Linked DNA regions of Homo sapiens: regions 1 and 3 are each linked to region 2. Evidence: fine-mapped expression QTL. A gene starts in region 2. Each other region holds a variant in brackets. All regions are shown on one strand. Distances are between the middles of the regions.

Evidence for each region. PIP is the estimated chance that this variant, and not a neighbour inherited with it, causes the effect.
Region 1: its variant is the best candidate, but not a certain one, in a credible set for the expression of MRC2 in sun-exposed skin (GTEx, PIP 0.59).
Region 3: its variant is the best candidate, but not a certain one, in a credible set for the expression of MRC2 in lung (TOPMed, PIP 0.71).

Annotation. Positions count from the first base shown.
Region 1 is chr17:62,463,830-62,474,662 of GRCh38, reverse strand. It overlaps LOC112268200 (a long non-coding RNA gene), which reads right to left. Exons shown (of 2, transcript XR_002958142.2): 2 at 10,325-10,431. It also overlaps a transcript of TLK2 not described here. Among named protein-coding and RNA genes, the nearest start is that of TLK2, 9.6 kb to the left of the region's middle. RefSeq lists enhancers at 9,796-10,295, 10,296-10,797. The variant A/GA (reference allele first, on the strand shown) is at 5,594.
Region 2 is chr17:62,621,283-62,632,115 of GRCh38, reverse strand. It overlaps MRC2 (mannose receptor C-type 2), which reads right to left and starts at 4,446. Exons shown (of 30, transcript NM_006039.5): 1 at 4,196-4,446. The coding sequence starts at 4,313. LOC107985020 (a long non-coding RNA gene) reads left to right here and starts at 4,066. Exons shown (of 2, transcript XR_001752961.3): 1 at 4,066-4,271; 2 at 5,107-5,679. RefSeq lists enhancers at 709-1,565, 5,720-6,220, 6,221-6,721 and silencers at 3,817-3,886, 4,087-4,526.
Region 3 is chr17:62,382,343-62,393,175 of GRCh38, reverse strand. It overlaps EFCAB3 (EF-hand calcium binding domain 3), which reads right to left. Exons shown (of 10, transcript NM_173503.4): 2 at 10,123-10,213; 3 at 5,760-5,836; 4 at 1,211-1,354. The coding sequence starts at 10,196. It also overlaps the pseudogene RNU7-52P. Among named protein-coding and RNA genes, the nearest start is that of EFCAB3, 7.2 kb to the right of the region's middle. The variant C/G (reference allele first, on the strand shown) is at 4,391.

The DNA of each region.
Region 1 (10,833 bases), 160 kb after region 2:
GCCGAGGCGGGCAGATCACGAGGTCAGGAGATCGAGACCATCCTGGCTAAGGTGAAACCCAGTCTCTACTAAAAATAAAAAAAAAATTAGCCGGGTGTGGTGGCTGGCACCTGTAGTCCCGGCTACTTGGGAGGCTGAGGCAGGAGAATGGCATGAACCCAGGAGGTGGAGCTTGCAGTAAGCCGAGACCGCACCACTGCACTCCAGCCCAGGCAACAGAGCTAGACGCCCTCTCAAATAAAAGTAAATAAATAAATAAAATTATGTCATTAAAAAAAAATACAGGGCCGGGCGCGGTGGCTCATGCTTGTAATCCCAGCACTTTGGGAGGGTGAAGCGGGTGAATCACGAGGTCAGGAGATGGAGAGCATCCTGGCTAACACAGTGAAACCCCGTCTCTACTAAAAATACAAAAAATTAGCCGGGCAAGGCAGCGTGTGTCTGTAGTCCCAGCTGCTGGGGAGGCTGAGGCAGGAGAATGGCATGAACCCAGGAGGCAGAGCTTGCAGTGAGCCAAGATCCCGCCACTGCACTCCAGCCTGGGCGACAGAGCGAGACTCGGTCTCAAAAAATAATAATTAACAAAAAAAAATACAAAAGTTAGATGCGCATGTTGCCATATGCTCGTGGTCCCAGCTACTCGGCAAGCTGAGGTTGGGAGATCACTTGAGCCCAGAAGGTGGAGGTTGCAGTGAGCTGAGAACCCACCATTGTACTCCAGCCTGCGTGTCAGTGAGATTCTGTCTCAAAAAAAAGAAAAGAAAAAAAATCTAGGCTATGCTCCCTAGTATGGGAAATCTAGTCTAGTCATTTGGCAGAATCAGGCTTTGCGGGCCATATTGTCTCTGTCGTAACTACCAACTCTGCTGGTTAAAAGGGAAGTAGCCACAAACAATGTCTGAATGATGGATTATGGCTGTGTTCCAATAAAACTTTATTTGCAAAAACAGGTTGCTGGTTGCAAGGTAGTTTTCCAACCTCTACGTGATTCTCAGACTTTAGGTTGCATCATAATCACCTGGAGGGCTTGTTCAAACGCAGATTGCTGGGCCCCACCCCCAGAATTTTTTATTCAGCCAGTCTGGGGTGGGGCTGATATTTGTATGTCTAACAACTTTCCAGGTGAGGCTGGTTGATGATGGTCTGGAAACCACTTTGAAAACCTCTGAAGCTTTTCTCAACTCCCTTTGTGTACCTAAAACACTTTATCCCTACTGTAGATGTAGTATTTAGCGTGTTATATTAGTTTAGTGATTGGTGTGTGGGTCTCTGGGAGCCTTTCTGAATCACCTCCCTAGCCTAGTGCCTGACAATAGCAATTTGCTCCCCATTCATTGACTGAACTGAAACCAGAGGGTCATGGTCATCATCATTGTTCCAAGCCATAGATAGAAGATGAAGTCACCACCCCCGATCTCAGAGCTCATCAGAGTAGAGCTTGGGCTGGACTATGCCCTTCTCTGCAGTGAGCAGTTTTCTCTGTGGAGCTCTGCAACCTGGAGCCAGCCCTGCCTGGGGTAAGAGGAAAAAGGACTCCTTCCCCCCAGCCCCACAGCCTGTACGCAAACACACCAGGAGACATGACCTGCTCAGAGGAGACCTGGAACCAAGGGAATAAAATGAGAGTGGGTTGGGGGCTTGGCTGTTTGTTATTTTTTTGCTTGTAAGTGGACAATTTGTGGTGTGGTGTGTGAATTTGGGGTCTTAAATCCAGATAGCTGTCTGCTGTGGACAGCCACTGTTTCTGAATTACAGGGCATTTCAAGTGACCTGTGGTCAGGATGTTTTCTCTCAGATCAGGCAAAATCAATTGGTCCTGATAATAACCAGGGGAGTTGTACTTTCCCTATCTTGAGTAGAAGACACAGCTCCCAGGTCCACCTGTCTCTCCTGACTGCCCACCTCCTGGCTTTTTTTTTTTTTTTGAGACGGGGTCTTGCTCCGTCGCCTAGGCTGGAGTGCAGTGGTGCGATCTCAGCTCACTGCAACCTGGGCCTCCTGGATTCAAGAGATTCTCCTGCTTCAGCCTAGCAAGGAGCTGGGATTACAGACGCGTGCCACCTCGCCCAGCTAATTTTTTTTATTTTTAGTAGAGACGGGGTTTCACCGTGTTAGCCAGGATGCTCTCGATCTCCCGACCTCGTGATCCACCCACCTTGGCCTCCCAAAGTGCTGGGATTACAGGCATGAGCCACCGTGCCCGGCCAGCCTCCTGGCTTTTATCCTGGGGGCACTGCAAGTAGAGCCAGGCATGTGGCCCATGCATCCTTCCCAGCCTCTCTTTCCTGCTGGGCATGGAGGAGGAGGCACTGCCAGGAGCTCCCCACAGACAGGCGCTGCTTACTAATGGGTTGGCTGCAAACTGTAGGCATAACAGTTACCTTCCTCTTCACGACCCCTAGGCCTGACGAGGCTTACACAGGAATTTCTTTGATTTGTGAAGTCTTAAGACTATACTGCTGGGCGCGGTGGCTCACGCCTGTAATCCCAGCACTTTGGGAGGCTGAGGCAGGCGGATCACGAGGTCAGGAGATCAAGACCATCCTGGCTAACACGGTGAAACCCCGTCTCTACTAAAAACACAAAAAATTAGCCGGACATGGTGGGGGGGCGCCTGTAGTCCCAGCTACTTGGGAGGCTGAGGCAGGAGAATGGCACGAACCCAGGAGGCAGAACTTGCAGTGAGCCGAAATCACACCACTGCACTCTGCACTCCAGCCTAGGCGACAGAGTAAGACTCTGTCTAAAAAAAAAAAAAAAAAAAAAAAAAAAAAGACTATACTACCTAATCTTCCATGCCTCGCTCTTTCCACGTTAATAGACAAAACCAGGAAAAAGGACTGCTCCCCCTCCTGCTCTTGACTGGGCTCCATAAGAACTGCCAAAAGGCCAGGCAGTATTTGCTACTCTTCTGGGGTTCACTTCTGAAAGGTGCGACCCTGCAACCTAGAGCACAGGGAAGTTAGGACAGCAGAGGAGCCGGGCCGAGCCGACGCTGGCTTAGAACTCTTTCTGATACTCCCTGTTCCCGCCAGCTCGTTAGCCCAGCCTGCCAATCAGTTTTGCATCAATAAACTTTATGTTCTGAGGTTGGCCAGATGAATGAGAGGAGAGCAGCTAAAGACTGATCTCTGACCTTGGCACATAAACAGCCTCCAGATTGGACTTGACAGTTAATAAAGGAAAGGCCCTGCAATTCTCTGATGCCTTTTTGCCTTAATTAGATTGAGCATTCAAAGGCTATGGGGAAATCTTCCATTTGAAGAGAAAAACCTCACAAGACAGGAAGTCACTTCACTCATTCATTCTTTCAGACTGTCAATCATTCGGTCTACAGTCACTGGCATTTGTCAAATGCCCTATTACCTGTGCTCAGCACTATGCTAACTGCTTTTGAGTCGAGTGGCTGCAAGAATTCCAGAAGTCCATGCCGTGCTCTTCTGGAAGACTGCACAGCCAGGCAGTCAAGAGCACAAGCTTCAGTTTAACATATCTGAGCTCAAATCCTGATTCTGCCATGTGACTTTTGGCAAGTTACTTAAACTCTCTGCCTTTAGTTTCCTCTTGGAGTAAATAATACCAACCTCCACAGGCTGTCATCAAGGCCAAATGAGACCATCTGTGTAAAGTGGGCAGCACAGAGCCTGGTGCTTGGCAGATGCCTGGTGGCCATGAACATGACAGTGCCTGCACCTGGCTGAACTGTCAGGCCGAGAAGCTTCCCTTCCTTCCCTCTCTCCCCTCCCCCATTCCTGGCATGCTGCCAGTCACTGGGGAGCTGGTGATGACTCACAATCCCTGCCCTCAGTGATATTATAAATCTATTGTTGGCCGAGCACTGTGGCACAACGCTTGTAATCCCAGCACTTTGGGAGGCTGAGGCAGAAGGATCACTTGAGGCCAGAAGTTTGAGACCAGCCTGGGCAACATACCAAGATCCCGTCTCTACCGAAAATTTAAAAATTAGCCAGGCATGGTGGTGTGCACCTGTAGTCCTAGCTACTTGGGAGTTGGGAGGCTAAGGCAGAAGGATCGTTTGAGCCTCGCAGTTCAGGGTTACGGCCTGGGTGAAAGAGGGAGACCCTGTCCCTTTAAAAATAAAAATAAAAAAAAACTATTGGCCAGGCACTATTGGCTCATGCCTGTAATACCAGGACTTTGGGAGGCTGAGGCAGGTGGATCACTTGAGGCCTGGAGTTCAAGACCAGCCTGGCCAACAGGGTGAAACCCTGTCTCTACTAATAATACAAAAAATTAGCCAGGCGTGGTGGCACATGCCTATAATCCCAGCTACTCAGGAGGCTGAGGCAGGAGAATTGCTTGAACCTGGGAGGCAGAAGTTGCAGTGAGCCGAGATCACACTGCTGTACTCCAGCATGGACAACAGTGGGAGACTCCCTCTCAAACGTGCACACACACACACACACACACACACACACACACACACACACCAAAAAACAGGACGGCCGGGCACAGTGGCTCATGCCTGTAATCCCAGCACTTTGGGAGGCCAAGGTGGGCAGATCATGAGGTCAGGAGTTTGAGACCAGCCTGGCCAATATGGTGAAACCCCGACTCTATTAAAAATACAAAAATTAGCCAGGCATCATGGCACGTGCCAATAGTCCCAGCTACTTGGGAGGCTGAGGCAGAAAAATCGCTTGAACCTGGGAGGTGGGAGGTTGCAGTGAGCGGAGATCGTGCCACTGCACTCCAGCCTGGGCAACAGAGTGAGACTCAGTCTCAAAAAAAAAAAAAAAAAAAATTCCCTGAACCCTTTCATGCTATATTTGCTCGCACATACAGGTTTCTTCAGTGTTAACCGTGTTCATCACATTGATGTGCTGTTTCACTTCATGCTGTGTGATGTGAACTTCGGCCAGAGCAAGGAGAAAGCAGTATATACTCTGAAAAGGACCCCGCACCGTGTTCACCCAAACAGCACCTCGTCATGCATCTCAGAGCCCTCGGCCTCTGGGCCACCTCCTCACTCCCCCAGGGGTGCTCTGAAGCCTTAAACAGTCTGCTTTTCTTTTTCTTTTCTTTCTTTCTTTCTTTTTTTTTTTTTAACAGAGTCTCGCTCTTGTTGCCCAGGCTGGAGTGCAGTGGTGTGATCTTGGCTCACCACAACCTCTGCCTCCCGGGTTCAAGCGATTCTCCTGCCTCAGCCTCCCGAGTAGCTGGGATTACAAGCATGCGCCAGGGATTACACGCCTGGCTAATTTTGTAGTTTTAGTAGAGATGGGGTTTCTCCATGTTGGTCAGGCTGGTCTCCAACTCCCGACCTCAGGTGATCCACCTGCCTCAGCCTCCCAAAGTGCTGGGATTACAGGTGTGAGCCACCACACCCGCCTCTCTTTTTTTTTCTTTTTTCTTTCTCTTTTTTTTTTTTTTTTTTTGAGAAGGATTCTCGCTCTGTCACCCAGACTGGAGTGCAGTGGCGAGATCTGGGCTCACTGCAACCTCCACCTCCCGGGTTCAGGCGATTCTCCTGCCTCAGCCCTCTGAGTAGCTGAGACTACAGGTGCCCACCACCACGCCCACCTAATTTTTTGTATTTTTAGTAAAGACGGAGTTTCACCGTGTTAGCCGG[A/GA]TGGTCTCACTCTCCTAACCTCATGATGTGCCTGCCTCGGCCTCCCAAAGTGCTGGGATTATAGGCGTGAGCCACCATGCCTGGCCAGCAGTCTGCCTTTCACGTGCCTCTTTGTATTTATTGGTTTTTTTGTTTTTTTTTTTGGAGACAGAGTCTCAGTCTGTCGCTCAGGATGCTGGAGTGCAGTGGCACAATCTTGGCTCACTGCAGTCTCTGCCTCCCAGGTTCAAGCAATTCTCCTGCCTTGGCCTCCTGAGTAGCTGGGACTACAGGCACACGCCACCACACCCGGCTAATTTTTGTATTTTTATTAGATACAGGGTTTCGCCATATTGGTCATGCTGGTCTCGAACTCCTGACCTCAGGTGATCTGCCCACCTCAACCTCCCCAAGTGCTGGGATTACAGGCATGAGCCACCATGCCTGGCCTTCTTGTATTTATTGGTTTTAATCCTCAATTAGAAACGTCTTAGGCAATTGTCTAGTTTTTACTAGCTATCTTTAATTCTTTTTTTTTTTTTAAGTGAAATGAAGTTTATTAAGTAAGTAAAGGAATAAAAGAATGGCTACTCTGCCAGGTGCAGTGGCTCACGCCGGTAATCCCAGCACTTTGGGAGGCCAAGGCGGGTGGATCACTAGGTTAGGAGTTCAAGACAAGCCTGGCCAAGATGGTGAAACCTCGTCTCTGCTAAAAATACAAAAATTAGCCAGACGTGGTAGTGGCGCATGCCTGTAATCCCAGCTACATGGGAGGCTGAGGCAGAGAATCGCTTGAACCTGGGAGGCGGAGGTTGCAGTAAGCCGAGATCGCGCTATTGCACTCCAGCCTGGGTGACAAGAGCAAAACTCCGTCTCAAAAAAAAAAAAAAAAAAAGGAATGGTTACTCCATAGGCAGAGCAGCCACTATCCTTAATTCTTAAATAACCCAGGCTCGTGCTATTCAGTATATGCTTCCCATCACTTCCTAAAGGGACCATGAGCGTACTGGAGTTCAGAGTCCTTTGAGATCTCCTAGTTCAATCTCCTCATGTTACAGATGGAGAAACTGAGTCTTGGAGGTGTGGGGACTTAATCTTTCCTCTTGTCTCCCTCCCTAAACCAATAAACAATCTTCACCCAGATCGTCAACACAAACCCACAAATCCCACCAGTTTTTCCCTGCGGGAACCTCCCCATTGCTCTCCTGGCCCTTCTTAGCAGAGAGCCCCATATCCTACGTAGAGTACAGAGGGGAAGTCATCAGACAGGAAAGCCCCCCACCAAGTTGCCCATCTGACGTGTGGCTGCCCCACACTGGGCAAAGGCCACCCTCCAGGCCCTCACTCTGGGCCATCCACCTGCTCCTCCAGGATTCTGCCCTGCACCTCTCACCCCTGGCTGACATAATCACCTTCTCCTCCTCCCTTCCATGAGCATTGCTTTCAACACACATTTATGCTCCCATTCTTCAAAAAATTTCTCAATTGTATGAAACTTTCTCTTGACCCTGCTAGTCACCCTTCCTTTTTGTAATTAAAATTTAAAAAAAATTTTTTTTGAGGCGGAGTCTCACTGTCGCCCAGGCTGGAGTGCAGTGGCCCGATCTTGGTTCACTACACGCTCTGCCTCCCGGGTTCACACCATTCTCCTGCCTCAGCCTCCCGAGTAGCTGGGACTACAGGCGCCCACCACCATGCCCAGCTAATTTTTTGTATTTTTAGTAGAGACGGGGTTTCACTGTGTTAGGATGGTCTCAATCTCCTGACCTCATGATCTGCCTGCCTCGGCCTCTCAAACTGCTGGGATTACAGGCGTGAGCCACCGCGCCTGGCCTCTTTTTTTTTTTTTTTTTTTTTTTTTGAGACAGATTCTCGCTCTGTTGCCGAGGCTGGAGTGCAATGGTGTGATCCTGGCTCGCCGCAACCTCCACCTCCTGGGTTCAAGCTATTCTCCTGCCTCAGCCTCCTGAGTAGCTGGGATTACAGGCACCTGCCACCACGCCCGGCTAATTTTTGTATTTTTATTAGAGACAGGGTTTCACCATGCTGGCCAGGCTGGTCTTGAACTCCCGACCTCAGGTGATCCGCCCACCTCGGCCTCCCAAAGTGCTGGGATTACAGGCGTGAGCCACCGTGCCCGGCAAGCCCGGCTAATTTTTGTATTTTTAGTAGAGATGGGGTTTCACCATGTTGGCCAGGCTGGTCTTGAACTCTTGACCTCAAGTGATCTGCCGGCCTCGACCTTCCAAAGTGCTGGGATGACAGGCGTAAGCCACCGCACCCAACTTAGTTTTTTTTTGGAGACAGGTTCTCAGTCTGTCATCTAGTCTGGAGTGCAATGGCAAGATCTAGCTCACTGCAACCTCCGCCTCCTGTGTTCAAGCTACTCTCCTGCCTCAGCCTCCGGAGTAGCTGGGATTACAGGCAGGCGCCCGCCACCACGCCCAGCTAATTTATTTATTTATTTATTTAAATTTTTTGAGACGGAGTTTTGCTCTTGTTGCCCAGGCTGGAGTGCAATGGCGCAATCTCAGCTCACTGCAACCTCCGCCTCCTGGGTTTCAAGTGATTCTCCTGGCTCAGCCTCCCACGTAGCTGGGATTACAGGCATGCACCACCACACCCGGCTAATTTTTTGTATTTTTAGTAGAGACGGGGTTTCACCATGTCAGCCAGGCTGGTCTTGAACTCCTGACCTCAGGTGATCCACCCGCCTCGGCCTCCCAAAGTGCTGGGATTACAGGAGTGAGCCACTGCACCCGGCTGCACCCAACTTTGTAAGGAAATAATTAAGCTGAAAGAGGAGTTGAAAAAATATTAAAATATTCTTCACCTAGATTTTTCCAATTAGCATTTTGCCATCTGTGCTTTCTCTGTGTATGGGGTATGTGTTTAATTTTTTGTTATTGTTGGAGCACTGGAAAGTTTCAAGTATCTACTCTTTCTGCCCTAAATACTACAATGTGTGTCTCCTACAGTTTCTCTCTTACCACACACCATTATCACACACAACAAATTCAGAGCTGCTATATATTATCTAATACAGGCCAGGCGTGGTGGCTCACGCCTGTAATCCCAGCACTTTAGGAGGCTGAGGCTGGAGAATCACTTCCTGAGCCCAGGAAGTTGAGGCTGCAGTGAGCTCCCTGCACTCCATCCTGCATGCCAGAGTGAGACCTTGTCTCAACAAAAAAAGGTATTATCTAATATGGAGTCCATTTTCCAATTTCCCCATTTGCCCCCAAAATGTCCTATATAGCTATTTTTTTAAGTATAAATATTTTTTATTTCAGAGATAGGGTCTTGCTCTGTCACCCAGGCTGGAATGCAGTGGTGCAATTGTAGCTCACCCACAGCCTCAACGTCCTGGGCTCAAGCCATCCTCCTGCCTCGGCCTCCGAGTAGCTGGGACTATACCCGGCTCATAGCTGTTTTTTAATCCAGAGCCCAGGCAGGGATGAGATGAGGCCAGGCACTGGTGATCATGCTGTTTTACTCTTCCTTCCCATCCCAATTTGGCTTCCAGATTCCTCCCTCCACCCAGAGGGCTCTGGTCAAAGTCAGGAGCCACTTGCATTACCAGATCTAAAGGATCCTTCTCGCTGGGCGCGGTGGCTCACGCCTGTAATGCCAGCATTTTGGGAGGGCGGAACACCTGAGGTCAGGAGTTAGAGACCAGCCTGGCCAACATGGCGAAACCCCATCTCCACTAAAAATGCAAAAATTAACTGGGCATGGTGGGCGCCTGTAATCCCAGCTATTCAGGAGGCTGAGGTAGGAGAATCACTTGAATCTGGGAGGTGGAGGTTGCAGTGGGCTGAGATGGCACCATTGCACTCCAGCCTGGCCAACAAGAGTGAAACTCCATCTCAAAAAAGAAAAAAAAAAGAAAGAAAGAATCCTTCTCTATCTTGTCTTCATTCTCTGTCTTCAGCAGGGACTCAACAAGGGCAGTTTCCTCTGAGTTTCTGGTTCACAGCACATTCCCATTTCCTCCCTAACTCAGAGATTTGTGGCTTCAAACACCAGTTGTGCACTGATGCCACCCACACTTCCAGCATCCAGGGGCGTCCAGCCCTGACCTGTGTCCCCCACTCCAGACTGACATGTTCCACTGCCTTCTCCACACTTCCATGTGTGTGTGCCATGGGTACCTCAATGGGTCTGAACAGAAGTCTTCATGTCTTCCCTTCTTCCCCAGCTCAGGAGCAGAACAGCACGACCATCACCACCATTTATCCTTGATAACAGCCTTTCCTTTCCCCCTCCAGCCCCTCCACCCACAGGTCCTCTTGGACCCACCTGTCTCCATCCTCACCTACATCGCTGAAGCCTGGCCCCCCATTCAGAGTCCAGAAGTATCCAGGGCCCTCCATGTGGCTCTCAGCTCTTGCCCCACCTCCACAGTACACTTTCCACAGTGCTAATCTCTTTAAAATGTAAATCAGATCTGGTCACTCCCTCCCTTAAAACCCTTTCATAGCTGCTCATTGGAGTGAAAAAAAAATCTCAGCTCCTTCTGGCTTATAAGGCCCAGGTGGTCCAACCCTGCCTCTATCTCATCTCCAGCCTCCTCCACCATTCTTGCCGGGGACCCTCCGGGGCCTGCCTTTAGCTGCTTGAATGCAGATATTTTCCTGTCTGGGGGCTTTTATACTTCCTTTCACCCTGGCCTGCCATGCTGTCACCCTGGAATATCCCCTGGCTGCCTCCCCTCCACCTTCCTGGCCTCCCAGAGCTCCCCAGCGCTTACTATCCAGATCCTGCTGCCTGGAGCGGGCTGTCCTCTCCATCTGGGGTCCGGGGCAGGGGCTCTGACTGGCTCAGCTCAGGACACATGCATGGCCTTCTCCATTCACCTGGACAAGGGCGGGGGTAAGGGATCATCATTTGGTCTAGATTCATTCTCATAATATTCATTATTATTATATGCATATTTTCTTCTGATTTTAAAATTAATTAAAACAATTTCCAGGGCCCCTAACAGTGTCATAGGCCTGATGGAGCAGCGGAACCTGCCTGAGGGTAAAGCTGAAGTTCCTCAGAAACCAGACGGCCTTACAGCCTCTTCACTGCTCTTTGAGATGGAAGAGAAGAAATGCAGATGAGTGCTTTCTGCTACAAATCTCATCTCTCCAAGCTGAAGTTGCCAAGGAACATGCCATCACTGTAACTGCTAAAAACACAACGTATAATGAAATGCATCTTCTACAAATGAATCTGTGAATACAGAATAGCCTACAGAGGTTGACAGTTTGATT
Region 2 (10,833 bases):
CCAGGGTGAGCTCCAGGAGCGCGTCACCACCCCACTGGCCCACCCCACCCAGATTCACAGGACCCAGGCGTGGGAAAGCGGCCCCCTCCCATCTCACGTAGGCCTGAACAGGAAGACACGCTTCCTATCAGCAGTGCTCAGGCCTTCCAAGTCCAGGGACCCCCACTGGAGACACGGTGGGGAGGTCTCAAATAAAGAATAGGCCATGGCCATCTCTACTTCAGTTCTGCAGGAGCTCAGCAGACACCCACTGAAGGAATGAATGAATGAATGAACAACCATGTGAATCCTTGACCTCAGGGAAGCTGGAGTGCCATGCTGGGGCACCTTGAGTCACTCACTTATCAATGCCTTCTTGGAGGGGGTCCCTCAGAGATCCTGAGGACACTGCAGGCGGCTCGGTCCAGGCCTCCTGGACCCACAAGGAAGTGGCTGACCCAAGCGCCCAGACCGCTGACATGTGACAGAGGGCTGCTCGCTCCACCCTCCTCCTCAGGAGTCCTCCCGGTGGGACACATTGAGAGGTGTCCTAGAGGGCTTGGAGTTATGGGGGCGGGGAGAACACATAAGGCAGAATTTCCCAGGCTTTCCTAACACACACACACTGACAGTGCTTCATGCGATGGAAACGCTGTATGGTACTGGAGCGTTCAGGCTCCGTAACCACTCCTGGGTTCGAATCTCACTGGTAACACCTTCTAGTGGTGTGGTGGCACAGCCTTGAGTGACTCCCTTAACATCTTTAACATTTTCACGCCAGGTGTGTGCAAATCTCTGACACCTGCTCAGAGATGGGAGGTGCCGAAGAGCTACTGCCAGCACAGGACCCAGCACGGCGCCCACCACATGCACAGCGCAGCCGTGGGTGCCATCGCTCCATCCCTCTGGGGGTATGGACAGTGCAACAGGACTCCTCCTCGATGCTTAAACTGATGAGGAACTCAAATGAATATCTGCCTGAGAACTGCATGGCACTTCCGAAATCATCTCATTGAGCCAAGTCACGGTGCCCTACGTGCATCAGAAAGCCAGGATTTCTCTGGTGCGAAAAATGGGGGCCAAAACCCGGGGTTCTTCCTCCCCTCCATGTACCCTCACCTTGCCCAGGTGAACCCAGAAGAGAGCCAGGATCCCAGCACTAGCCACAGCTCGGCTGGGCACCTCCTGGGCCCTGATGACTCACAGAGAGCCAGAGGGTTGGAGCAAGGAAAACTGAGTTTTGCGTGGGGGAACAGTAAGAAGTTTCCGAACCCCACGACTCAGCAGAAGCTGGGCCAGAAGTGTAGGGAGCTGGTCTGGCTGACTCTGGTCAGAGCCCCAAGTACCCGATGCCACCCTCCCTGTCCTTTAGGCAGCACCGACCTTCCCCACAGGAAGATTTCCTGAGGTCTCCTCACCCCATGGCCTTGAGACTTGATCCCTGGAGCTCCCAGAAGCCCCTTTCCCAGCAACTATCCCCTCATTCCTCTGCTCGGAAACCTCCAAGGGTCCCCTGGGGTTCCCCACAGCCAGCTTGCAGGTCCCATCCCCATTCTGGCCTCCCAGGCACCTCTTTCACTCAACCTTCTCCCCGGCCCAGCCAGCAAGCTTCCACATCATCCCCAGAAGAGCCCAGCCTGGTGGCCCCTTCCTGCCTCTCTCCAGACAGCCTTGGCCACCCTTTGGCCCATACGGTCTCTCCTGCCTCCAATCTCCAGACGGGAAGCATCCACACTCCAGCCTTTCACTTACTAGGGGTGTGACCAATGTAAATGATCAGACCCCTCTTAGCCTTCATTTCCTGAACTGCAAAAATGGTCCAACAATAACCATCTCCTTGGGTTGTTATCAAAATGAAATGGGAACTTGCACATGAAGGGTTGAGCGTGGGTCTGGGCAGGCAGGCATCCCACCAATGGCATTCTGCCCCCTACGCAGTTCACTGTTCCACGTTTCATTCTCCCACACGATTTTCTTTTTCCAGAGGATGCATCTTACACTCTTCTCTACCTTCCCTCCTCCCCAAGAACTTGGCTCAAGGCTGAGCAAACTGCATGCTCCAGAAATGCGGTAATATGGCAACTAACAAAGAGGACTCCTTCCAGTGACAGTCTCCGCGGGCCACTCCACCAAGGTGGAGAAAAGATGGATTCCACCATCACGCACCAAGAAGGCACTGCCGCCTCGCTGCCCCTGCCCCGTGCTCTGGGCACACAGGGCTCCCCCATGGTGGTCAGGAAACTGCCCACACGCAGCCCCTGCCCTGCCTGGCATAAGCCTCGCCCCCAGCAGCACTGGCCTGCCACACCCTACCTCCCACATGCATTTCCTGGGCTATTTGGTCTCTGGTGCTGGTGAATTCCTCCCAACAACAACGTAATTCACCAGGTACTAGGGGCTGCCAGCTCTTCGGGCAAGGAATTCGGCCCAGAGGCTCTGAACAGGCTTCCCAGGGTAGGGCCCAGTGGAATTTGGCAGGGCAGGGGCAAGCGCACTCTGTGCAGAGGGCACGGTTCCGAGGGAAGGAACCTGCAGCAGCTCCATCCTCCTCCTGCTCAGCTGCTGCTGGAAGACCTCACACTGCCTGCCACCCAGATCCAAGCCTCCTCAGGGTGTGGTCAATGCAGTGCCAACGGGAAGGGGACCCTCTGAGGCTATTCATCCCTGGACACAGCCCCAGGGAGGGCCAGGCACAGAGACCAGGAGGAGGAGGGACACTCCAGGCGTCCTTGTCCTCCCTGACCGGGCCTCTCACCAGGCACTTCCAGCCCCCTCTATGAAAAGCTCCAGGGGGAAAGGCCGAGTCAGCACTCTGGCCACAACTCTCTCCCAGGGCCTGGCTTTAAAGTGTGCTCTGGAGCTCTGGGAATGGCCATCCTCCCCACCCCTTCCCACCGCCTGCCTCCTGAGGCCCTGCGCAGAGGAGCAGAGGAAGGCAGGAGTGCGAGGAGGTAGGGGAACTGCCTGTGAGGCCGCCCTGCAGTGGGTTAGGGGGTTACCCGGCCTGGTTTGTGTCTGTCCCACATTCAATGCCAGGTGGGCCCAGAATTGCCCCGGGGGTCTCCGGTTGGTGTGAATGTGGGTCACCGTGGCCCCCACCTTTCCCATCTGGCAGATATGTGTCTTGTGCCTACGTCACGCCAGGCCAACCCAGCAAGCACGGGCCAGGCTGGAGGCCCCAGACTCTCCAGGGGGCTGTCTGGTCCTTGCACAAAACTGCAGACACTGCACGGACTGTCCCCATCCCCCAATTAAACAGCCAGCAGGACCAAGCTGGGCCGGGCGATTCCCCCGGTCACTCCAGACACCCCCACCCCCACTCCCCCAGGAAGTGGATCTTTCCTTTCAACTCTTAGATTCTTGGCGAGGGATCTGTCTGTCCCCACACTTCACTGTTACCCCTGAATAAGGAGCAGGAAGAGAATGGCACAGTTTTGGGGTTTTCTGATTTTTGTTTTGTTTCCTGTTCGTTGGGTTTTAAAATCTTTAGCAGCTCTTTTGCCGCTCAAGGTCTGTCCCCTCTGGAGGGCCACTAGTGTGCCCAGAGCTGCCCACGCTACGCAACATCACAGCACGGCGGCGCCCAGCCTGTTGCTGCGTCCCAGTGGCAGGAGCCTCCTCACAGGGCTGCCGAGCTCACGCGGGGCGGATGCCGCGCGCCACAAGCCTCCTTGAAGACTAAGTGTGGAAAAGAAAATATCAACGCCCACGAGATGCAGGGGGCGGGGGGAAGGTGGGGGAAACGAACCCTCGCGGATAGTTGGAAAGCCGTCCTAACGCATCAGTCCTGGGGCAGAGCGAGGAGACTGGGCCCGGGAACTCCCGGACAGAGAGCCCTGGCTCCCCGGGCGCGCCCTGCAGGTCCCCTGCCGAGGACGGGCCGGCGCCGGGTGGTCCGGGAGCGCGGTGCGCGGGGGTCCTCAAGAGCCCACCCGCTTCCTCCTAGGCTGCTGGAGTCCCCCGGGCTCCCCTCCCCCGCCGCCCGCCACATCTGGTTCCACTCAGGTCCTCCCCCACCTCTAGGCGCGCTCCTCCTCCCCTCTCCTCCCCCGCTTTCAGAAAAGCGGAGACGAGTTTTAAAAACCCAGTCACACACACACGCACACACGCTTCTGGAGAAAAGAGGGGGGAAAAGGAGGGAAAAGTCGAGAGCGGCCCGCGCCTCGGCGCTCCCCCCGCCCGGGCCCTGAAGTTGGCCAAGTTGGCAGCGCCTTACCCGGGAGGGCGGCGTCCCCAGGGGCGCCGGGACGGCCGAGGTGCAGGCACCCGAGGAGCAGGACGCAGCGCAGCAGGTGACGAGGCCAGGGCGCGGGGGCCGGCCGGCCGGGCCCCATCCCCGAGCGCGGCGCTCAGTGGACGCGGGGACCGAGGGCGCACAGGCGCAACGCGCTGTGGCAGCCCCGAGGCTGGGCTGTGATGACCGCCCGCAAGGGGCTCGCGTCCTCCTCCGGGTCGGGACGAAGTGATGCCTCCCGGGGAGGAGGAGGGAGGAGGCAGCCCGGGCGGAGGGAGGGCGGAGGGAGGAGCGCAGAACCGGGGAGGAGGGTTCGAGGGGTAGAGGGGAAGGGAAGTGGGCAGCGTGGGAGGGGAAGGGGAGGAGGCGCGGGTCTGGGGCTAGAGCGTCGGGAGGGAGAGAAAGGGGTGGCGGAGAGGAGGACACGCCGGGTCCAGGAGGACCCCAGCGTGCGCCCTTTCTCTTGCTGCTCTGTTTCCCAGTCTCTCCCCGCCTCGCCTTCCCTCTCTTCTGTCCCGGCCAGGATCCCCAGACGCTGCGTCACAACTCCCCCGCTGGCGCGGGCGGGGAAGCAACTGCAAAACTTTCCGCAAACTTCACGGCGTGGTGGGACCTGGGCTACGAGGTCCGGCCAGCCCGGGGCGGGGGCGTGCAGCTGACCCAGGTGGCCAGACCCGGGCCGCCAGCATCCGCCCCGCCATCCCGCCTCTTTCTGCGGGCGTCTCCAGCAGCCTAGCATCCCCTACCTCCATGCCGAGGAGGACCCCTCCCCCGGTCTGGTGGGGAAGGGGCGGAGCCCAGGGCCTGGCCACCAGGGCGAAGATTGGGGGAGGGGGAGGCAGAGCCCTTGTTACGTGTGCGGAGCGCAACAATTCTTGCACGTCTTGTTTTAGCATTTTCGTGACCCCTGTGTCAGTGTTCCCGGTGCAGGAGTGTAGCACTTTTGCTTGTTGGGGCTGCATCCAGAAACCTGGGGAAAATCTGTCCACTGGACGTCTCAGAAGACCGGCATCATCACTCCCACCAACTGGACTGCTGGCCGGTAGCAAAAGACCAGCTGGAAATTTCATAAAAGGTTAGACAATCCACAGTTACTCAGTGTTACGCAACAGGTCTCTGCAGCACAGAGCACGAACTGGGGAGTCAGGATGCTGGAGTCCAGCCCTGCCTCTCTGCGGATTCCCTGCCTGACCTTGGGAAAGCCTCTTGGGGTCTCGGGGCATAGGGCAGGACTGAGACGTTGAGACCCCAAGTGCAAAGAAGACACATTTCTCCTACCACGAGTAATCAAAAACACTATGAAACTGTAATATGGGCCGGGTGCGGTGGCTCACGCCTGTAATCACACTTTCGGAGGCCGAGGAGATTGAGCCCAGGAGTTGAAGACCAGCCTGGGCAACATAGGCAGATCCCATCTCATTTTGTTAATATAAAATTTTTAAATAATAATAAAACTGTAATATAAATTGTATTGTTTCCTATCTTGTCCACCTTGGTATGTTTTTTGGAAATAAATTCAATTTTTTTCCTTTTTATTCCTCCTATCTTGGGTAAATGTTTCCCCAACTCTGCAGTGGGGGTGTTGGGTCAGAAATGCTCACTCGTCTCTTCCCATCTCTGTCAGGCTGAGGCTCTTGGTAAACAGTCCAGTGGTAATAGAGCCTCGAAGCAAGCCCCCACTGAAATCCCCTAGAGGCCCCTGGAAAGGGTCCCATTAGCCACCCTTTGGTTAGCAGCCAGACCAACAAAGCCCCTGCACTCCACGGCTAGCTTCAGCAGGTCCGACAGGGCCAGGTCCCTTCTGGTGGCTGTGGCTCCACTGCCCCTTGGGACATGTCTTCTTGGTGTGGCATGTTCTGGGATCTCAGTCCTCTGCACACAACAGGCCATGCTGGAGCTGCCTCAGAGGTCCCCCTCTTGGCCTTCCCTCTTGCACAATCCTGTAATCTCTGAAGGATTTAAGGATTTGCCGGCTAAGCTGCTCTCTCGCTCTCAGAACACAGGATACTCCTTCCCCTGAAACAGGGCTGGATTCCCCCTTCTCCAGCAGCTTGAGTAGGTTTCGGCGTTTCCTGCTGGCCTTCCCTCCTACTATCAGTGGCAGGACAGAAGCCCACCCCTTGACATCACCAGCGCAGAGCATGAGGCCAGAGAGCCCACCACTTGCCGGCACCAGGTCCCGCCATGCCGGGCACACAGGAGGTGTGCTCTCGTCTCTTCACCCACCGGCTCAACAAGCACCGACTGCTAGCCCTGTGCTAGCTGCTAGAGAAAGAGAGATGGGCAAACACAGTTGCAGCCCTAGAGGAGCCTCATTTAGTGGGGGAAAATAAACGTTTTGCCATATTCCAGGCAAAGAAGACGCAAGGGCTGAGGAGCACAAAAGTGTGCTGCTCTCGCAGGGACAGAGGTTGGTTCAAGCTTCTAAGGCCCAGTTCTAGTCTCTGTCAAGGGTGAGACTTCCTCCTCCAGCGCGAGACTTCCTCCTCCAGCGCGACATGGTTCCACACTGTGTTCCACTGACTTCTGCTGATGTCTGCAGCTGCCAACTGCTTTTGATCTTGACTTTGGGGCAGAAAGCGGGGAAACATCTGGGAGATTCTCCCTGTGGAGAATCCGGGCCGGTTCCCTACTGCATAAAGATCCTGTGCAGGCTCAGTTGTCAACAGAACATGGTCACAGTCTGTAGGAGTGTTGGGTGTTGTGAGCAGCATGGGACTTTCGAGGAACCCCTCATCAACACCCAGACCTTCATCTGCTTCCAAAGAAGGGCCAGCGTCCTCTGTGCCCACAGCCTCCTCACCATTCCTGTGCCCACAGTTGAACAGCCGTTTATTGAGGGTCAGTATGTGTCAGGCATCAGGCTAGATGCTGGAGACTTAGTGAGGTCTCTGACTTGTCCAGGGGATTTTTGCCAAGATGGTATTCGCTATCGTGGAACTGAAGCTGAGAATGGTTCTCCCCTAGACACTGACCAACTGTCAGCCAGCAACAGGTACTGAGGGTGATATGGTTTGGGATCTGTGTCCCCGCCCAAATCTCATGTCAAATTGTAATCCCCAGTGTTGGAGGTGGGCCCTGGTGGGAGGTGATTGGATCACGGGGGTGGATTTCTCATGAATGGTTTAGCACCATCCTCTTGATGCTGTTCTCATGACAGTGAGTTCTCACGAGAACTGGTCATTTAAAAGTGTGCAGCACCTCTCCACTCTCTGTCTCGCTCCTGCTCCAGCCATGTGAACTGCTGCATCCCTTCCGCCATGATTTTAAGTTTCCTGAGGCCTCCCTAGAAGCTGAGCAGATGCCAGCATCATGCTTCCTGTACAACCTGTGGAACCATGAGCAAATTAAACCTCTTTTCTTTATAATTACCCAGCCTCAGATATTTCTTTTCTTTTTTTTTTTTTTTGAGATCAAGTCTCACTCCATTGCCCAGGCTGGAGTGCAGTGGTGCAATCTTGGCTCACTGCAACCTCCACCTCCTAGGTCCAAGCGATTCTCCTGCCTCAGCCTCCTGAGTAGCTGGGATTACAGGCACGTGCCACCATGCCCAGCTAATTAGTAGAGAGGGGTTTCACCATGTTAGCCAGGCTGGTCTCAAACTCCTGACCTCAGGTGATCCACCTGCTTCAGCCTCCTAAAGTGCTGGGATTACAGGTGTGAGCCACCACACCCGGCCTGGTCTCAGGTATTTCTTTATAGCAATGAGAGAATGGTCTAATCCTGTATTAGCATCACCCCCTGTGGGTCTGCTAATTTCATCAAAACCAGTTTACGCCAGGTGTGGCGGTTCAGGTCTTGTAATCCCAGCTCTTTGGGAAGCCAAGGTGGGAGGATCACTTGAGGCCAGGAGTTAACAATCAGCCTGGGCAACATAGCAAGACCACACTTCTACAAAAATTTTTAAAATTAGCTGGGCGTGGTCATGGTGGTATGCACCTGTAGTCCTAGCTACTTGGGAGGCTAAGACAGGGGAAGTACTTGAGCCCCGGGATTTGAGACTGGAGTGAATCTATAATCACCACTGGACTCCAGCCTGAGCAACAGAGCGAGATCCTGTCTTTAATCAATCAATCAATCAAACAGTTTAGTGGAAGGAGTACAGACTTTGGATCCAGAGAAACCTGAGTTCAAATCCTGACTTCGCCATTTCCCAGCTTTGTAACCTGCAGCAAGTTATTAATGCTTTAACTCTGAGCTCACAATAATTCTTACTTGTAAATGGGGCAACTTGAGATGTTTCCTACCTTGGGAGTTAAATGTTAAGTGTAAAGCAATGGCATGGCCGCTGGATGAATGGGGATGTTCAGGGAATGTGGTCTCCTCCATCTCCCATCTTCCTTTGCCATTTGGACATCAGGGTCCTTACCCTTCACCCTGCCTGTCTCTCCCCTACCCTCCCACCCTACCCTGCCCATGAAATCTGCACATATCAGTTTTATCGGATTGTAACATTGAGTTTTACTTTGCCTGGGAAAACAATACAACATCCCTGCATTTTCTGAACATCTCCATATTTAATTGTGTACAAAAATGGTACCCTAAAGTGTAAAGTAATCTAATAAGAAGCATGCTCACTTTGGCTAATAAATGTGTGTCCATAAACAGCTCGGCATGGGGCAGTGGGGTGAGTCCAGGCCTGGGGAGTGGAGGTGAGTGGAGTTCCGGCTCTGCCATTCACTAGCCACATGTCCTCGAGCAAGTCATTTCCCTTCCCTGAGTCTCAGGTGCCCTGTGAGGTGTAAGTTTTGGTGTCATTACTCACTGTGCTTAGGGATCCTCTGGCATTACTCTCCTCTTCTCTGGTTCTGTGGCTCAGGAGCCTCTCCAGCCAGAGGGTTCCCAGGGGAGCAGAGCACTCCAGCAGGCCAGGTCTACAACAGAAGCTTAGGAAAGAAGAACTCAAGACAGGGAGGGAAAATGCAACTGGATGGCTTGGTAGGGTAGGAGGCTATAAAGAAAGACTTGGGCCGGGTGCGGTGGCTCACGCCTGTCATCCCAGCACTTTGGGAGGCTGAGACGGGCGGATCACAAGGTCAGGAGTTTGAGACCAGCCTGGCCAATATGGTGAAACCCCTTCTCTACTAAAAATACAAAAATTAGCCGGGTGTGGTGGCGGGCGCCTGTAGTCCCAACTACTCAGGAGGCTGAGGCAGAAGAATCACTTGAACCTGGGAGGCAGAGGTTGCAGTGAGCTGAGATTGCGCCACTGTATTCTAGCCTGGGTGACAGAGTGAGACTCTGTCTCAAAAAAAAAAAAAAAAAAAAAAAAGACTTGGCCAGTCCTTGCCTGAGGCAACTAGAAAAGAGGCAGTGACCCCAAAGGGTTCTGTATGACCTGCCCCACCCTGCACCTTCTCCAAGCCAGGGAAGAGGACTGGCCAAATGTGGGGCTGGCCCAAGTGGGTCTCACCCTCTCTTCTCCCTGGCTCCTGCATCTCAAATCCCCGGGGCTCCACTCAGGCAATCCACTCCAAGTCCATCTGGCTACACCCTCGTCTACACCACCAAGGATCCTAGAGGGGACTGGGCTAAAGAGGGAAGGAAGAAGGCAGGCTCAGGATTCAGAAAGACCCATAGTTCAATATCTAGTTCAACCTCTTCCAAGGGTAACTTAAAGGAACTATTTTTTCCCACGCCCACATGACTGGGGAACCTTATAGCTGGTCTGTCTTCTCTTGACTGGTCCACCCCAGCCCTCCTCACCATTCATCCAGCCACAGTTACAACCTGACAAAAATTCTGCCCACTTTCTCTAGGTTCTTTCCCTTCTCCCTTCTGTGGAGAACACCTAGAAGGGCTCCCCGATCCCAGGAAAGCCTCTGAGTTTATATCCACTCACTTCCAACCCAAGGCCTGTATTAGAAGAGGAATCCTTAGGCCAGGCGGGGTGCCTCACGCCTGTAATCCCAGCACTTTGGGAGGCTGAAGCGGGTGGATCACCTGAGGTCAGGAGTTTGAGACCAGCCTGGCCAACATGGTGAAACCCCATCTGTACTAAAAATACAAAAAATTAGCCAGGTGTGGTGGCGGATGCCTATAATCTCAGCTACTCAGGAGGCTGAGGCAGGAGGATCGCTTGAACCCAGGAGGTGGAGGTTGCAGTGAGCCGAGATGGTGCCATTGCACTCCAGCCTGGGCAACAAGAGCAAAACCCTGTCTAAAAAAGAAGAGGGATCCTTTAAAGGGACCCCAAATCCCAGCCTTTTCTCTACCAAGGGCTAAGAGATAGTTACCTCACAGTGTCTTCCAGGAAGCAGGAAGTACAGATTTCCTCTCCATGAACCTAGGAATCTGGACATCGACTCTCACTTGGAGGAGCCACCACGAAAACACTGTGAGCTGCCAGCGGAGTAAGCTCAAAGCGGGAGGGCTCAGGACTGCGAACCCCGGCTGCAGCAGGGGTCACAAAGCAAATGCCTCTCAGATCCTCGCTGGCTCCTGTCTCCACTGGGGAGGCTTGAGTGGGTCAGGAGCAAGCTGGCTAAGGGGAGCTCAGAGAGGGACAGAGGTTGCCCTGAGGCGCCGCAGTAAGGAAAAGAGGGCATCACAGAGCTGAGCTGAAGAACCAGTTGTGCATGAGTGAGATGGAGTCCCCAGAACTTTCTACTGCCCTCCCC
Region 3 (10,833 bases), 240 kb after region 2:
TTAGAGGGGTATGTGTATGTTTCCATGAAATAATAGAAAATTTTGACACAGTTAGTAGAAGCAAGTGACACCTTAAGTGACACTGAATGACAGGTGGAACTGATGTTGATTGAGTAGGGCACTAGCAGTTGGGTGGAGAGAGGTGAGAGGAGATAATATGCTGAATATATTTTTCACACAGCATATCAGTTTGGGCTACTAATAATTCGGTCAGTATATTCACTAAAAACATTATCTATGGCTGGGCATGGTGGCTCATGCCTGTAATCCCAGCACTTTAGGAGGCCGAGGCGGGCGGATCACGAAGTCAGGAGATCGAGACCATCCTGGCTAACACGGTGAAACCCTGTATCTACTAAAAATACAAAAAATTAGCCGGGCATGGTGGCGGGCGCCTGTAGTCCCAGCTACTCAAGAGGCTGAGGCAGGAGAATGGTGTGAACCCAGGAGGCGGAGGTTGCAGTGAGCTGAGATTGCGCCACTGCACTCCAGCCTGGGCAACAGAGCAAGACTCCGTCTCAAACAAAAAAAAAAACATTATCTGTATGCTTTAAAAATACCAACAAAAGTGCTGTGGCATTTAAAATTCAATATAGGTGGGACTTGATGGAAAAAGAAAGATTTGTTCTGTTTTGATTCAAACAGAAACAAAAGGCTTGAATTCTCTTGGTAACATGTCATTATTAACATTGTTACTGCTTTTGTACATCAGGACAGGTAACCTGAATTTGATACTGAAATCAGACAATCACTCTTAGCTTCCACACAGTGTTTTTCAAATAGTCCATTTTCTAGGATTAATTTGATTTCACAACTTGTACACATACCTCACTGATCTCCTTAAAGGGACATACATACATACACACGCAGACACACACATATATGTGTGTGTCCCTTTAAGGCTATATATATATGTGTGTGTGTGTGGTGTATACATAGATATATGGATATATACATATATGTATATTTGTATATAGTATTCAAATATATAGTCTACAAACATATAATATACAAATATATATATTTGTACTATATATTTGTGTATATATATATTTAACATATACAAATATATATATACACACAAATATATATATATTTGGGGGGGCAAGTAAATAAGATTTGTTTCTCATGTTTATACAGTCATTAAAAGAAAACTATATATTCACAAAAATCTTTTATGAGAAAAACAATGAGAAGCCAAAGGACTCACGATCAATATCAGCACATTTCAATTCATTATAGACATCATGCTTGGTCAGATTCATTCCCAGCTTAGCTACAGTGCACATCAGTCCATGGAAATCAATACAGCCAGTTTTGTCCTTGTAGAAGAAGTTGTAGGCATCTTGGAAAGCTGGGGAGATAGGATTAAGTTATTCAGGACAGTTGTTCAAGAAGAAGTACATACACTAATAGGACTAGGACAGACAATATAGTTGACTGGAGATCATGTTCTAAAAAAAGGATTGCGAAAAAAATGAGTGCTTAATAGACATTTCTTATAAAGGACAGTATCCTTCCACGGAACTTGAACTGGAATGAACTAACTGTTGCAAAACCAAGTGTTGGTAGGTAAGATGGCTTTCCAAAGATATCCACACTGTAATCCCTTAACCAGTGAATATGCTATCTTACATGGCAAAAGGGACTTTGCACATATAATTAAGATAGATTATTCTGGGCTCAATCTAATTACGTGATCCCTTATATAGCTAGAAGCTGGAGAGACGTGGCAGAAATCAGAGAGGTTTAGAGCATGAGAAAGACCTGACCCACCATTGTTGATTTATCAGCCAGGAGCTTCTCTGCTTGCTAAAGAGGCTGAGAAGCTCCTGGCTGATAAACAGCAAAGAAACTGGAATGTCAGCCCTGCAAGAAAAAAGAACAGAATTCTGCCAAAAATCTGAATGAGACTGGGAGCAGATTCTCCTCCAGGAGATCCTCGTGGATCACGAGGTCAGGAGATTGAGACCATCCTGGCTAAGGACAGGCTGGCCAACACCTTAATTTCAGTCCTATAAGACACAGAGAAGAGAAACCAGCTGTACCCACCTGGACTTCTGACTTATAGAACTGTGAGATAATAAATTTGTGTTGTTTTAAGCTGTTATGTTTGTGGCAATTTGTTACAGCAGCAATAGAAAACTAATTTGTCAAATTGGACCCAAATCACATATGTGTGTATGTATGTTTTGTATAATCCAAAGTTTTTCAAAGAAATAGTCAAGGCACTAACTGGAGCCAAAATTAGGTATGTATTTTCTGAAATTAGAGAATGACGAAATAAACCTGGAACAAAATATATCCCAAATGACACCCGAATAAAACTTACTTCATATCACATTCAAGTCTCAGCGTCTCTATGTATAACAGTGATTAATCTCCTACAGAGATAACGATACCTGCTCTGTAAGTGTGTAATGTAAAAGGTAACATCTTTCTCCTTGATAAAAGGTAGGCTTCTCTAGGGCTGGAACCAAACTATCTCTGACTTGTTTCTGTTTTTCCCACTATCTCTTGCATGTTAGTAGGCAGTCAACAAATATTGATTGCATGCTTTCCATGGACCAGGTATTGCTCCAAGTGCTTTGGATATATTAGTGCACTAAATAGACAAAGATCTGTGCCTTCATATAAATGTAATAAATAGGTAAACTAGATGCCATTTTAGAAGGTGGTATGTACCATGGAAAAAAGAAAAAGTAATTCTGGGTGGATGATTAGAAAGAAGAGAAATAGAATTCCTACACACTCCCACCTCCATGTCTACTTCCTGACCAGCACCTGTACCTGCATGATCTTCCTTTCTCTCTGCGCTGCAAATAAACTGTATGCTCTTACCCAGAGCCAATCCCTCCCTTGTGGATTGGAACTCATCCCCTCTCTCATATTCAAAGAATTTACTGAAGAAAGGGTCTCCTCTTAGGTAAGGGAAATATCATTTTTTCATTTTCTATTATATCAATCCTATTGTTGTATAAACTTTTGCTGTTTCTCCCTTAAAAAGTACACTGTGACCCCATTTCCCCCTCCGGCTATTGCTACCTCTGCCATTTGTCTCTTCTTCCTATTGAAAATTTAATCATTTATGGCCGGGCACGGTGGCTCATGCCTGTAATCCCAGCACTTTGGGAGGCCAAGGTGGGTGGATCACGAGGTCAGGAGATCGAGACCATCCTGGCTAACATGGTGAAACCCTGTCTCTACTAAAAATACAAAAAATTAGCTGAGCGTGGTGGCGGGTGCCTGTAGTCCCAGCTACTCAAGAGGCTGAGGCAGGAGAATGGCGTGAACCTGGGAGGCGGAGCTTGCAGTGAGCCGAGATGGCACCACTGCACAGAAAAAAATAAATAAATAAATAAAAATTAAATAATTAGTCATTTATTTCTATCAGTGTGGATTCATGGATGTTTATTTTATACTTTGGGTTATAATCAATTCTATATTATTAATTTTTATTGCTCAAATAGAAAAAGTTGGTGGAAGGCAGAGTATATGGATACAGATGCTGGTAAGGAGGTAGACATGGAGGTGAGGGTCTACGGAAATTCTAATCTGATTGCTTCAGTTTTCTTTGGGAAAGTAAGCAGACCAATTGACAGTAAGGATGGGAGATGCTGGGGATCTTGAAGTATTCAATAAATATTTGTAGAATGAACAAATTAACCTCTCATAGGAAAGTTGTGAGGATTAAGCACTGTAACGAACACATTTTCTAGTTTCCATATTTGATGTTTTGATATCTGGGGCCTTGCTGGCCCTGGAGGGACTGCCCCTCTCAGGGCTGGTCAATTCCTAGAATAGTGACTACTAGATTGTGAGTGTGTCTTTCCTCTGCAAACCATCCAATTCCATAGACCATATTCCAGAGACCATATCCTCAACCACCTGCCTTCTCCACCTCTTACAGTCAGAGACACTACTTCCCTGCCCTAGTCATCCCAGGGCTAGGTACCAGACAACTAGGGACAGCCCTTACATGCCAGAGCCCACTGAAATTGTTTAAACTAGCTAACCCCATACCTGCTTACCCTGCCTTGTCCATTCCTTCTTGCAGAAACCACAATAGAGTTTCTTGTCCACATGCTGCCCCTGCCCACTTCCTGACTGACCCTGGTGCTTCCTCTTGTGGCCCCACATGCTTGGCATGCTGTGCCCTGTTTCTAGGGATCTGTGAGTATGAAAAACTTCCTTTGTGGCCATCATTTCTGCGTCTGCCTGTCTCACCATATCTGACTAAAATAGACCCCTTAAAATGAGTACCAAAGTATCTTAAGGCACTTTAGAAACCTTAAAGGTCTATAAAACCATAAGCTGTTATTATTAAGGCATTTAGCTCAGTTTTACAATGAAAAATGCCAATCTGATCATGACAATCCTTTGTGTTTTC[C/G]AAACCGAAATTCCCAGCAATAAAGGTTGATTGATTATAGAATGAACAAATTAACCTCTCATAGGAAAGTTGGGGATTAAGCACTGTAAAGAACACATTTTCTAGTTTCCATATTTGATGTTTTGCTATCTGGGGCCTTGGTGGCCCTGGAGGGACTGCCCCTGTCAGGGCTGGTCAAGGTGGATTGATTCTTTGATTCATTTCTGTCTCCTGGGTCAATTTCTAAATTGGTTCTAAATTTAGTGGGGTAAAGCATCAGCCTCTTCAGAAACCAGATGCAACCCAAACACAGCCACACTTGACTTCTTTGAATTTTTCTAGTGCATCATGCTTTCCCTTTTTTCTGGCCTTTGTAGATTCTGCTCTTTCTGCCTAGAAACTCCTGTCAGCGCTATTTGCCTGATTTACTCCTGTTCGTCATTCAGCCTTCTCTGGGACTCCCTTTCTTCCCTCACAAGACCAAATTAGGAGGCTTTCCTTTAAGCTCCTATAACACTCCATGCTTTTCCTATCATAACTTGTGTTATATTGTAATTTAAATGATTTATTCAGCAAGTTCATGGCTTTTTTTTTTCGAGACGTAGTCTCGCTTTGTCGCCCAGGCTGGTGTGCAGTGGCGCGATCTCGGCTTACTGCAACCTCCGCTTCCTGGGTTCAAGCAATTCTCCCTGCCTCAGCCTCCCAAATAGCTGGGATTACAGGTGCCCGCCACCACGCTCAGCTAATTTTTGTATTTTTAGTAGAGACAAGGTTTCACCATATTGGCCAAGCTGGTCTCGGACTCCTGACCTCAGGTGATCGGCCCGGCCTGCCTCAGCCTCCCAAAGTGCTGAGATTACAGGCGTGAGCCACCGTGCCTGGCAAGTTCATGGTTTAACAGCCTGTCTTCCCTATTAGACTTCCTATCAGGGCAGGGACCACATCTGACTTGTTTTGTTGTTTCCCACGCCTAGTACATTTTTGGCATTAAATAAATATTTGTTGTTTGGATGAATAAACTTTAGCCAGTGTAGCTCATTTTATATTGTTTTCTTTGAGAAATCCTAGGACTGTAGCTGTGTTTGTGTTCTTTATTACTTGATTTATATTTGTTCTTTTGTTATTTTTGTTCTTTTTGCGTTTGTTCTTTTCCATACCCACAAGTTCTTCTTTGAATACAGTTATTTGACCAGCACTGCCTAAATTCTAGGGAGATGTCCATTTAAAAGCAATTTCCCTCCTGTCCCACAAAAATGTAAGGTTTTTTTTCCTTTCTCTCAAATGATGGTGGTGTAGACAACCCTTGAAATCTCAGATCTTTCTTAGAGAAGAAAGGATCAGACATATTAAGGAGCTGTTATGCTTCAATTTTGAGGATGATTCTCATTACCTGCCATTTGTGAAGCACTTAGCTTCTTTTCTTTGTGTTGTAATTGGCATTGAAGAGATCCTGGTAAGTCTCTATCCCTGAGGAAAGATGTGAAAATATTTAGATTTACTACCTATGTGAAACCAGCAGATATTAGTCTTACTCATCAGTTTCTGCTTACTGGAATGACTGTAGCATCTCAATGTATCCAGTCTACTATCCTAAGGGATCTTCTATTTAGGATAGCCCATAGCTACAGGATGAACAGTGAGAAAATGTTGGCCACTGAGATCCTCCTCTGCCCTAAACTTGCCCATCACCCTTCCCTTAAAAAATTATAATTTCAGGCCAGCCATGGTGGCTCATACCTGTACTCCTACCCCTTTGGGAGGTCAAGGCAAGAGGATCGCTTGAGCCCAGGAGTTCAAGACCAGCTTGGGCAACGTAGCAAGACCCTGTCTCTACAAAAACATAAAAAAAAATTAGCCAGGTGTGGTGGCACAGGCCTGTAGTCCTAGCCACTCAGGAGGCTGAGGTGGGAGGATTGCTTGTGCCTGGGAGGTCAAGGCTGCACTGAGTCATGATTGCACCACTATGCTTCAGCCTGGGTGACAGAGTGAGACCCTATCTCAAAAAAAAACAAACCCCAAAAAACCAGTTACGATTTCCCCCATTTTACAAAATAAGAAACAGAAGCTCAGAGCAATTAAATAATTTGTCTCAGGTTATACAGATAGTAAATGGAAGACCTGAGATTCAAACCCAGATTTGTCTGACTCCAAAAGTCAAGGCCATAATGCTTTACACTATTCCTGTTGTTAGAAAGAGAAGTTGTTTCAATTTTCTTTTTTGCTGGCTCCAATTCTCAGCCTTGAGTTTCAAATTTTAAAACTGTATAAACGTTGTTGTGGTGAATACCCTTACAGAGAAACCTCTGTATCTATGACTATTTTACAACTTTTTTTTTTTTACAACTTTTACAACTATTTTACAATCGTCAAACTGTATTTTTACCAGCATATGTATGGGTGTATAAGAGAGTGAAATAAAGATAGAGAACACCTCTGAAAATTTGAAACCCTGGGTGACCTTTCATTTATTGAGGAAAGTAAAATCTGGAAAAGGCAGGAACATATTAATACTTTCAAGATACTTTGTACAGATCTGAAGTAATTTATTAGTTTAAGAACACAAAAATGTATCATGTAAAACTGAGTTTGCTTATAATATGATAAATAAAATTTAATTACATTTAAGTAAATGTGATTTAACTCCAAAATTTAATTATAACCAATTTTATAAATTTATTTAAAATGCATTTAGTTTTGATACTTGTAAAACTAAAAGTTTAAAAAATATGAAATCTCATAGTTTTGTGGCTTTATAAGAAGCAGTTTAAAAAGTAAAACTAGGCCGGGTGCGGTGGCTCATGCCTGTAATCCCTGCACTTAGGGAGGCCAAGGCGGGTGGATCACGAGGTCAGGAGATCGAGACCATCCTGGCTAACATGGTGAAACCCCGCCTCTACTAAAAATTAAAAAAAAAAAAAAATTAGCCGGGCATGGTGGCGGGCGCCTGTAGTCCCAGCTACTTCGGAGGCTGAGGCAGAAGAATGACATGAACCCAGGAGGTGGAGCTTGCAGTGAGCAGAGATCACGTCACTGCACTCCAGTCTGGGTGACAGAGCAAGACTCTGTCTCAAAAAAAAAAAAAAAAAAAAAGTAAAACTAGAAGAAATACTAAACATTGTAGTTAAACAAAAAATTATTATGGTTTATTAATTTAGTATCCCCTAAAGTACTTATTAGATTCAACTCATTTTCAAAGAGGGGCCTGGGAGAAAAGGAGGTGATAGTCTCAAAACTGTTCTTAACTTTTGAAAGTGGAATTTTATCTAACTTGTCTTATTTTCTCAGTTTTTACTAACATTGCTTTCTTCTTCTGGTGCTTCCTCTTTATTATCTACTTGAATTTCTTCTCTTTCTCTCATTCTTTCAAGACAGAGTCTCCCTCTGCAGTCCAGGCTGGAGTGCAGTGATGTGATCGTGGCTCACTGCAGCCTTGACCGCCCAGGCTCAAGGATCCTTCCACCTCAGTTTCCTGAGTAATTGGAACTATAGGTGCATGCCACCATACCCAGCTAATTTTTTATTTTTTGTAGAGACAAGATCTCCTTATGTTGCTCAGGCTGGTCTTGAACACCTGGGCTCAAGTGTTCCTCCCACCTCTACCTCCCAAAGTGTTGGGATTACAAGTGTGTGCCACTGTGCCCAACCTGTAATTTCTGAAGCTCAGGTTTGTCCTTATTCAGATAGGTTATTTTATATTTATTGTACAGATGTTCCTTGATTCATGATGGGGTTACCTCCTTATAAACCCATCATAAGTTGAAAATATTGTAAATTGAAAATGCATTTAATTTGCCTAACCTACATAGCTTAGCCGAGCCTACCTTAAATGTGCTCAGAACAGTTACATTAGCCTACAGGTGGGCAAACTCATGTAGCACAAAGCCTATTTTGTAATAAAGTGTTGAATGCCTCATGTAATTTATTGACTCCTGTACTGAAAGTGAAAAACAGAACAGTTGTATGAGTATTTGAAGTAGAGTTTCTACCAGATGCATATGGCTTTTGTACCACTGTAAAGTCAAAAAATGGTAAGTTGAACCATTGTTAAGTTGGGGACCATCTGTATTTCTAAATATAAACAAATTTCTTTTGCATGATGTAGAAGATGCAGTACATGGAGAAATACTATGTTCTCAAGAAGCAGGAGGAAAGTAGAATTCAAGGCAGTGTAAAGATCTTTTATTTTTCTTTCAAGACAGGGTCTTGCTCTGTTGCCCAGGCTGAAGCACAGTGGTGCGATCTCAGCTCACCCTAACCTCTGCCTCCTAGGCTCGAGCAATCCTCCCACCTCAGCCCCTTGAGTAGCTGGGACTACAAGTGTGCACCACCACACCCAGTTAATTTTTGTATCTTTTTTGGTAGAGGCTGGTCTCAAATTCCTAGGCTCAAGTGATCCACCCGCCTCAGCCTCTCAAAGTGCTGGGATTACAGATGTGAGCCACCGTGCTAGGCCAGGCAATGTAAAGTTCTTATTATCTGTCTTTAAAAAGACACTCTTGGCACAATTTCAGACCTTATCTTGGATCAAACATTGGAGAAAGACTTTATTTTTCAAAGTTTCAAATGACTGAAGAACCTTACATTTGGAATGAACCCAATCCAGCCTTCCATCTAATGTAGGAATTCCCTTTACATGTAGTATTGTCTAGTCTTTGCTTAACTACTTTCAGTGACAAGGAACTCACTCCCTCAAAAGACAGCTTGCATAGTCAAGGACACTAGAAAAGATACACTCAAAATAGAAAGTAAATGGATAATTGTGAAAGAGAAAAAAATGTTCTTCTTATGATCTGATAAAATATAAATCAGGCTCTCATTTTTGCTCATTAGTGGCTGTTAATTGAAATTTGTTGTTAGGTGACTGAGAAAAAGCCATTGTTAATGTCACAGGTAAATCTCCCTTCCCAATTTTAGCCCAGGGTCAGTCATGGCTAATTTACCAGCTTTCGTTTACCAGCTATATTTGAAATATAGACCCTTTTTCTACACTTTGACTTGGTTATGGGTTTAGGTCTTCTTTATGATCTTCTAAATTTTTTCTTCTTTAAACTGGCACTCAAAATATCTCAAGGTATAACTGATAACTTCTTGAGCCCCCTAGGGTATTTTGTATCCTAACATAAAAACAGCTTCTCCTTTGGGAGGACAGGAGGGAGAATTCTGCTCTTCCTATCAAAAAAGATGTATATCTTTTTCTTTTCATAAAAAATATTTCTCTTCAATTCCGATGTTTTGTTTTATAACTAAAGTTATCATATAATAAATATTTGAAGAGTATTTTAATTGTTTCATCATAATCTTTATGAGCATTTAATATATTAGTAATTTTTTTTTGAGATGGAGTCTTGCTCTGTCACCAGGCTGGAGTGCAGTGGCACAATGTCAACTCACTGCAACCTCTGTCCCCCAAGTTCAAGCAATTCTCCTGCCTCAGCCTCTCGAGTAGCTGGCACCACAGGCGCACACCACCATGCCTGGCTAATTTTTGTATTTTTAGTAGAGACGGAGTTTCACCATGTTGGCCAGGATGGTCTCGATCTCTTGACCTCATGATCCGCCCACCTCGGCCTCCCAAAGTGCTGAGATTACAGGTGTGAGCCACTGCATCTGGCCAATAATCTCAATAATTTTCTTTTTTTTAGGGGCTTCCCAGTAAAGATCGGAAAACCTGCTAGACAAAATTCTAAAAGAGCTGTAACACTAATAATTCTTTATCATAATACATTTATCACCCTTAATCATTCATTACCTACCTTTTATTGTGGGAGATGGGTACTTTTGTTAGAGGATTCAGCTTAAGTTTTGGTTTAATTTCTGAAACTGCCATGTGGCCAGTGACTCTGTCTGGAATTCAGAATATACAATTAAGAAATCAGTTTACAGATTCATTCTTTATATTCTTTTGCAACTTTTTCAGCTCAAAGCCTGGAGTTTGAAAAGTCTAGGGCCTCAAGAAATGGTAATAGATGCAAACTCAAGTTAGAGGTATGCATAAAGTTGGAATGCCATGTGGAAATTCCCCTTCGTTGTTCCCGATTTCTGAGCAAAGTTGCTTGTCACTGCTCCCCCTTCAATTAGTGTCACTCTGATCCTATGTAAGAATAAATGCTAAGTGAAATAAGCCAGACACAGAAAGACCAATGCTATATGATCTAACTAATATGTATAATCTAAAATAGTTTAACTCATAGAAGCAGAGAGTAGAATGGTGGTTGAGGAAGGAGATATGGGGAGATGTTGGTGATACAAAGTTTGAAGATGAATAAATTCTGAAGATCTAATGAACAGCATGGTGACTACAGGTAATAATACTACTGTAATGTATACCTGAAATTTGCTAAGAGATTAGATCCTAAGTGTTCTCACTACACACACACACACACACAAATAGTAACTAAGTGAAGTGATGAATATGTTAATTAGATTGATTGTGGTGATTGTTTAACAATGTATACATATATCAA